Linked DNA regions of Homo sapiens: all the other regions are linked to region 2. Evidence: fine-mapped expression QTL. A gene starts in region 2. Each other region holds a variant in brackets. All regions are shown on one strand. Distances are from middle to middle. Region 1 has its middle 42 kb from the start of LINC02265. Region 2 holds the start of RHOH (ras homolog family member H). Region 3 has its middle 50 kb from the start of LINC02265.

Region 1 (2,762 bases), 68 kb before region 2:
TCTGCCCTATTATTTATGTAAAATTGCAGATTCACTGAGCCAGACTAAATTTTGTATTCAGTGGAAGGTTGATCAAGGACTCCGAAGAGTCCACTGCAGCCTTTTGTCTTTTGACTACTTATGACGTGGAAGTCTCCGCCTCACGTTGTCCCACCTTCCCAGACTAAACCAATGTACATCTTACATGTATTGATGTCTCGTGTCTCCCTAAAATGCATAAAAGCAAGATGTGTCTGACTACCTTGGGTACATGTTGTCAGGACCTTCCAAGGCTGTGTCACAAGCAGATTCTTAACTTTGAAAAAATAAACTTTCTAAATTGATTGAGACCTGTCTCAGATACCTTTTGGTTTATAGAAACAAGGAGAGAGTCCAAGTTTGGTGGAAGAGGGAAGGGAGCAATTAACTAGATTTTGTAGAGTTTGGTGGATGCCTCGATGGAGAAAGTAAAGAGCTGTACTCAATGAGTAAGAGTGATGGCCTCATAGTCAGGCTTTCTGGAAATGGACTGTACCTTTACACTCATCGAATACTGTAGCCATAACCGAGGGCAGTTTTACCACTTCTTATTTCAGTTCCTTGTGAGCCTTCATCTGCCACAGCATTTGGAATGAGTCTTCCTCCAGTCAGGGCTGCTGATCACAGTTGCACAGGCCGTTCACTGAACAAGGCAGAGGGGACAGTGGAGACTGAAATCTAGCTGTGCTGGGCTTGCCAAAACTCTGTGGGCTGGCATAGGGCGGTGTGCAGGCAGAGCAGGCACCATTTTCTGACTCTCACAAAGGATCCTGCAGGCTGGCAGCGCTGTACCTACCACCTGCCTAAGGCTCTGCTCTTTCTCTTCTGCCTCCGCCTCTTCCCTTCACCCTCGCCATGGCAGAGAATTAGACTTGTCAAGTTTCCACAATATGATGCAGGCTAGAAACACTGGACAGGCTGCCATCTCCCTCCTCCCTCTCCCTTCCCTCTGCTCCTCCCTCTCTCCCTCATCCCTCTCCCATAAGTTCTTCCACATGGATTCACTTTTTCAGAGAAAGTAGATTGAGGTTGAAGCAGAAAAATGACTCAGTATGTGACAAGTGTGTTTCTCCTACCAATAGCATGAAGAAAACAGACGCAGACGGTTTTCAGCAGCCTCTTTTCTCTCGGCCCAAGCCTCAAGCTAACAGAAATGTTGTGAAAAAGAACAGCCGATAAATGGTCCCTGAGTGACAGCCACAGAGTTAAAACCACAGGAGGGCTCTGCCTGCTCCCACAGCTGCAGGGTGATGAGGCTT[T/G]GCTGGGTTCCAGATCACAGGCCTGCAGTGGCCCAGGCTCCAGCGTTAGTCCTGTCTCCCCAAGGAGCCCAGGCCCAGGCTGGCTTCTTCCCTGCCCACTACTCAGGAGGAGCTTCGACCCTGTGGGAACTGGCAGTGTTGCCGCAAAGGCAAGCCCTCTGACTTTCTCGCTTCAGGCAGCCCCTGCTCGCCCTCAGGCACTAGGCACCTGCTTGACCCCTTTCCCAGGCCCATGGGGCATCTGCTCCTCCCATCTCAGGCCTGAGGGAGAAGCAACAGCCCAGAGCTTGACCCGGAGCAGATAATGCAACCGGCTTTGCAAAAATCTTAACTAAGGCAATTATGACAGTGAAAGAGGTCAGACCTAACTGACCCCATCTTCCTTCAAACCTCTCAACTGTCTTTATTCATTTGTGGGTATAGGCTGAACTAGCCTTGGGAAGGAATTTAGTTTATAGTTTACACTCTGAAACAAAATTGATAATAGCCTTTTCCCGAAAAACCCCTTTTTGCCTGGGGACCAGTTTGCCTTTGTAGGATTAACAAATTATCTACAAGATTAGAAATTACAGTTTAGCAGCCATGCAGCCTTTGGCTGCAAGAGTCTGAACCTCTCCAAATTGCTCCTGGGAATGACATCATTGTTGCGAAACCTAACATCAGTGCTTGAGATATTTTGCAGACTCTGCATTCCAATGCAGCAGATGACACCACCTAGACTGATAATCCGGCTCAATCAGTTCTGCAATCCCACCCAGGAGCAGAAGTCAGCAAGAACACCTCAATTCGACCCCCTATGATTTCATCTTCAACCCGACCAGTGAGCACTCTCCACTCTCCGAGCCCATACCACCAAATTATCCTTAAGAACTCTGATCCCCAAATGCTCAGGGAGATTGATTTGAGTAACAATAAGACTCCAGTCTCCCGCACAGCCGGCTCTACATGAATTACTCTCTCTCTCTTTTTTTTTTTTTATTTTTGAGACGGAGTCTCACTCTGTCACCCAGGCTGGAGTGCAGCGATTCAGTCTCGGATCACTGCAACCTCTGCCTCTTGGGTTCAAGCAATTATCTGCCTCAGCCTCCCAAGTAGCTGGGATTACAGGTGCCCGCCACCACACCCAGCTACCTTTTTTGTATTTTCAGTAGAGACGGGGTTTCACCACCTTGGCCAGGCTGGTCTTGAATTCCTGACCTCGTGATCCACCTTCCTCGGCCTCCCAAAGTGCTGGGATTATAGGCATGAGCCACCACACCCGGCCTGAATTACTCTTTCTCTATTGCAATTCCCCTGTCCTGAGAAATCAACTCTGTCTAGGCACCCAGCAAGGTGAACCCATTGGGTGGTTACGGTAATACCCTGGAACTCCAGGACTCTACTTGAGGAGATGTAAGGACAGCAAAACTCCATCCACTTCCATGCTCTTAGGGTCTCAGCTGGGCACAAAGGCTAAATTGATGTAAGATCGATTAACAGGAGAAA
Region 2 (2,762 bases):
AAGGACTATTGAATGGGGTCACTTCTCCCCAGTGCCTGCAAGGTCCTCGCTTTTGTGTCCACACCCTAACTGTCTAATCTGATTTCCTGCAATGTGTAAAACAAACTGTCTTCTCTTCTCCAGTGTCTCTTCAACTGGCCTTATCATCTCCAGGTCAGTCTCGCCTTTGTGCCTTTGCCCACAAGGTCCTCCCAGTCTGAAATCACCTGCCCCTTCTCCTTCTACCGACACTTCGCATTCTTCCAAAGCCCAGATCTTCCTGACAACTCCAGTTTGCCCCCAGGCCCCCTCCATGGAATTCACAGAACTCTTCAAGCCTGTGCTGCCCCACTCATCACTGAATTCTCATCTTGCATTGCTTCCTAAATTTTACTTCTTATCACAACTACCAGATTATAGGGTCCTTCAAAGTAGAGATTTTTAAAATATTTCTCTTATATCCTCCACGGCACCAGCTTAGAACCAATAAGGGGACACCAACTACTTGTTGCCTGCTTGAATACGTCAATGGCAACTTTCATTTAGTAAAGCACCTAAAACCGGTGATTTCCCAAACTTTGTTTAGTTACAACTCAGGCTACTGACTGGTACCTCGTAGCATATCTCCAAATCAAACCACCTCAGAAGAAAGATTAAATTTAATTAAAAAATACATGTTATACATCATAGAGCACTTTTGGGAAATGGTCATTAACATTGGCAATAGGTGAAAAACACAAGCTAGAAATTCCAGATTGAAATCTACATCATTTAGACTTCGGTTCTGTTTCTTTTCTGAACTAGACAACTTTAAAATTCATATTTGCACAACTTAGAGCATCTTTAGATTTACTTCATCAAACCTTGGGTAGTATTTAAACTACCCATACAGTTGAGCTCAGCCACAGTCACAAGCATATGCATTCTCTAGAATATCTGGAAAACCAAAAAGCCAACTATTGTAACTTTTCATGTTTCAAAAATCTTGTTAGGACTGTGGTGAGGGGCAGTGAATATCAAAGCAACACTCACCCCCCCGACCCCCGTCCCCCTGTAAATTGATTCTACACCTTACAGCAGGTAGCTCAGAGTCATTACGATGTTTGGCCTAGAGTAAAAGCTAAATAAAATTAGAAAAATTTCTTTTGACACCAAAGAAATACTTTTAAGGAAGCAAAATCCTTACCTGTTGCAGAATGCCGAAGAAATGTCTTGACAGTAAAATGACTGACTCCGGAAATCAAATTTGTTCAACAAAAGCAGGTGAAAACAAAAGCGGCCCAAGCCTTTTCACTGTGGTTGATTTCCTCATAGGATCAACCTCTCCCTCGTTCCCGAGAATATTAACTGATTCACACTGGAAGAACTGAAAATACAACAGTTGGGCTGGCAGGGAGTCCACCCCAAGATGGTTGGGTTAGTGTGTGTGGGGCAGCAGGAGCAATCCGAATGTGACAAAAGAGATTAGCAAGTTCCTGTGCCTAAGTCAATTTCCTGTAGCCGGCTTCTCCGCAGAGGGGGTTTCATTTGTGTGGGTTTAGGGGGGTGTGTGTGCACGTGCGTTTCTCTCCATTAGAATATGAAACTTCCCCAGATCAGAGGCAGAATAAGGCCTTTGCCGCACCGCTGGGTTTGCGTTTAATTTATCCCCCACCCTACTCCGAGACTATGTTTCTCTCCCCCTTAGCCCCATTTTCCTCCAGCAAAGCCCTACGTAAAACTGAAGAAAGGAAGACTGAAGAGTCCAAATGATTCCTCATGGAAGTAAAATTACCAAAAAAAAAAAAAAAAAAAGTCCATGCCACTGACCAATCTTGGTTAATTTGAGCTTAGGAAACAACACCTTAGAACTTTCCCCCCATCAGCTTGGGGAAAACAAGAGGTGGATTGTCTGCTTCGCTTTGCTGCATTAAAAACTATCAAATATTTTGCAAAGAACAGAGGCAGGCTTAGTGAGAGTTCGAGCAGCCCCCTGCCGTGCGTTCACCCCTGTATGGACGAGCACCTGGGCTGGGAGTTACCTGGCGATGAGTTGTTTTTTCAGACTCCTCAGAGTTTCATTATTTGCCTAAAAACACAAGTTTACTTGTTTTGTCCTAATGGGCAATCCAGGTGTAGAGACCATCTGCAACTACTTAGGTTATGGCTAAACGCCTAACCCAACAAATTGAACTTTTGTGATGTGGTCACAACCGCCTGTGCCCCAAATCCCTGAATAACTAACTGTTGATGCTACTGCTCACGGTGATAGCTTGGTCAAAATACCTGCCGACCGTAAGGATAAAGTCAACTCCATGCCTTTTATTTTATTTTATCAGTGCATCGGCCCCACACTCAAAGATTTGAGTTTAATTGAGCTGGGTTGGGACCGGACATCAATATTATTTTAAACCCCTCTGATTATTCTAAAGTACTGCTGCCACTCTAATGGATGAGAAGGAGGAAAGAACATTCCACGTAGAGGCAAATAGTATGTGCAAAGGCCCTGAGGTGGGAAAGAGGTTGGCATGTTCAAAGAAGTGAAAGCAGATGACTGTGCTTGCAGCATAGTTGTAGAGGGAATCAATGGTACAAGGTGAGCATTCTTATCAATAGACACCCAATTACCAAGTTCACAAGACTTCCACATGAACCCATGTGTCAATTTGTTAATGCACAGTAAGAACTCAATCTGCCAGCTGAGATCCTCGAGCCTTCTGAAGAGCACATTATCTCCTAGAAAATCCTCTGTGGGAGGCCAGGTGCAGTGGCGGTGGCTCACACCTGTAATGCCAGCACTTTAG
Region 3 (2,762 bases), 60 kb before region 2:
GAAAGTGACTAGGCGAGCCTAAAACACACAGCAGTTTCTTCTGACTGGTGTCAAGAGTATCAAGAGGGAGGCGTGTTGGTTTCCTAGCTGTTCTACTCTGGGTCATCCGCAAGGCTTGAGCCTCCTCCGGGGACAAAGGGAATCTGATACAGCACCTTCACCATGGAGGCCAACCTTGCAGGAAAGGCAGAGAAGGACGGCAGAAAAAGATGGAGGCCGGGGTGGGGATGCGAAGGAGCAGCAAAGACAGAGAGAGGAGAGCCGGCCGATGGTCGCCACACTCTGGAAGGAACGTGCAGGTGACTTGAAAGGAAGTTAAAGAAATCTCTGTGGCCAGGCGCGGTGGCTCATGCCTGTAATCCCAGCACTTTGGGAGGCCGAAGCAGGCAGAACACCTGAGGTTACGAGTTGGAGACCAGCCTGGCCAACATGGTAAAACCCTGTCTCTACCAAAAATACAAAAATTAGCTGGGCATGGTGGCAGACACCTGTAATCCCAGCTACTCAGGAGGCTAAGGTGGGAGGATTGCTTGAACCCGGGAGGCGGAGGTTGCAGTGAGCCAAGATCACACCACTGCATTCCAGCCTGGGCAACAGAGTAAGACTCAGAAAAAAAAAACAAAACTCTCTGGACTTTACATCTGTCATACTAAGATTTTTCTTTCCAGGATTGGGATGTTCCCTATAAGCCCTCCCAGTTTATGTAACCAAGGAGTTAGAATGTGCAACCCAATAGGTGGGCCCATTATTGGAAGGGTGGTAGTCAGGAGGCCAGGCTGGGGGCCAGGTTGCCGGGACTGAATCCTGACTCTACCACATGCCAGTGTCTTACCTTGAGTAAGTTTCCTCATCTGTAAAGGGTGGATGAAAATTCTACTTTTATCTTGGGTGCTTACAATAAGTAAATAAATTAATATATGTAAAGTACATAGTGCTGGATATATCTGAGGTTATTACTATGAGTCTAAGCAAGGCTATTTATATATGTGTATGTATATATCTATTTGTGTGTGTGTATATATATATATGCATGTGTGCATGCACACA[T/C]ACACACACACACACACCCCTTAGAAGCCCATGGATACAATTAACAAACATGGTTACAGGTTCCTTGGAAAAATCTAGGCTAACACACTGCCATTACACAGTGTAGGAGTATGTATATTCGTTAACATACTGATACTGAAAGCTGTTCACAATATAATAAATGAAAAAAGTAGATTGCAAATCAGATTGCACCATACGAACCTATTTTTGTAAAAATACACACATATGTGGATAAGAAAAAGTCTGGAATGGTAGAGACAAAAAAAGATGTAACAGTAGCTATTGAAGTGTTTTTTATTATCATTTTGTTTCATTGCTTCTAATCTTTTCACCAATGAATGTGCAATATCTGTGGGTTTTCTTAGGATAGACATAGAAAGACATCAATATAAAGAATCTCTTTCCGTTATGATTTCTTTCACTTGTGCCAACCAGGCTAGATTGCAGATTTTCCTGAGGAGCATTTGGGGAAAGGGGTGGGAGAGTATCTCTGGGGTGCCCCTGAACACACAAAGCCCCAGCCTGAGTTGTTCAGGACACACAGCTCTAGCAGTTGAGCTTATTGCTAATAAGCCAGGCAGTGCCTCTGGCTGGCTGGCGTGTCCTGTGTCTTCCTGTTCTCTACTCACTGGTTTCATGTGCTAGCCTTTGTCTCTGACATTTTCTTTCTTTTTTTTTTTCTTGAGATGGAGTCTCTCTCTGTCACCCAGGATGGAGTGCAGTGGTATGATCTTGGCTCGCTGCAACCTCTCCCTCCTGGGTTCAAGTGATTCTCCTCCCTCAGCCTCCCAAGTAGCTGGGACTACAGGTGCCTGCCACCACGCCCAGCTAACTTTTGTATTTTTAGTAGAGACGGGGTTTCACTATGTTGGCCAGGCTGGTCTGGAAATCCTGACCTCAGGTGATCTGCTCGCTTCAGCCTCCCAAAACGCTGGGATTACAGGCATGAGCCACCACACCCAGCAGCCTTTAAACTTCCATCACAGAAACCTGAAACGAATAGGCAGAGTCCAAAGCTCCATGTTAGAGGCTGGAAGTTCTGAGGCCTGCAGGAACAAGTGAGAGCCCTTGGGAGCCAAAGCCTGGCCCTCAAGTCCCGACTTGCCCAAAGCCATCTGTGTGTCTTGGGCAAAGAGGAGAGTCAGTTTCTTCATCTGTAAGATGATAGGATTGGGCTAAATCCTCCCTGAGGTCCCCTTCAACTCCAAAAAATGGGAGTCCAGTAAATAACAGAGAAGCCGGGGAAAATGTTCTGCCATGTTGATTTAGGTTTGAGCTCAATGAAAGGATCTACACTAACAAGAGATTAAAAAAAAATTGTATGGGTTTGCATGCAGTATCCAGAGAAGTAAGGTAAATACAGTTTGAGGCCTGGATTTATGGATTATTTCCTTCTTTCTGACTTTTCCATTTGTTAAACAGAGATAGCATCAATATCTGTTTACTCAATGAATGCCTAGCAGACAACCACACAGTAAGTGGGTTCAGTTAAAAAAATATGCTCTGACAATAAGGGTGAAAATAGTGACAGCCAAGGCTTGGATGGAAGACCTCACTTCTGGTCAGTGAGTGCATGTGTGTGGCCTGGATGAGCCATGTCACCCTCCTGGACCTCATCTCTTACACTAACACCTCACAGGGTCATCCAGAGCATCAGATGAAAGCATCATCGAATGGAAAAAAGGGAGTTTGGAGCAAGAGATCTAAGTACAAAT

What was found.
Region 1: its variant is fine-mapped to the expression of RHOH in whole blood (TOPMed, PIP above 0.99).
Region 3: its variant is fine-mapped to the expression of RHOH in whole blood (INTERVAL, PIP above 0.99).

Annotation. Positions count from the first base shown.
Region 1 is chr4:40,263,882-40,266,643 of GRCh38, reverse strand. No RefSeq gene overlaps it. Among named protein-coding and RNA genes, the nearest start is that of LINC02265, 42 kb to the left of the region's middle. The variant T/G (reference allele first, on the strand shown) is at 1,278.
Region 2 is chr4:40,195,704-40,198,465 of GRCh38, reverse strand. RHOH (ras homolog family member H) reads right to left here and starts at 1,435. Exons shown (of 3, transcript NM_004310.5): 1 at 1,166-1,435. RefSeq lists an enhancer at 363-462.
Region 3 is chr4:40,255,892-40,258,653 of GRCh38, reverse strand. No RefSeq gene overlaps it. Among named protein-coding and RNA genes, the nearest start is that of LINC02265, 50 kb to the left of the region's middle. RefSeq lists an enhancer at 1-622. The variant T/C (reference allele first, on the strand shown) is at 1,048.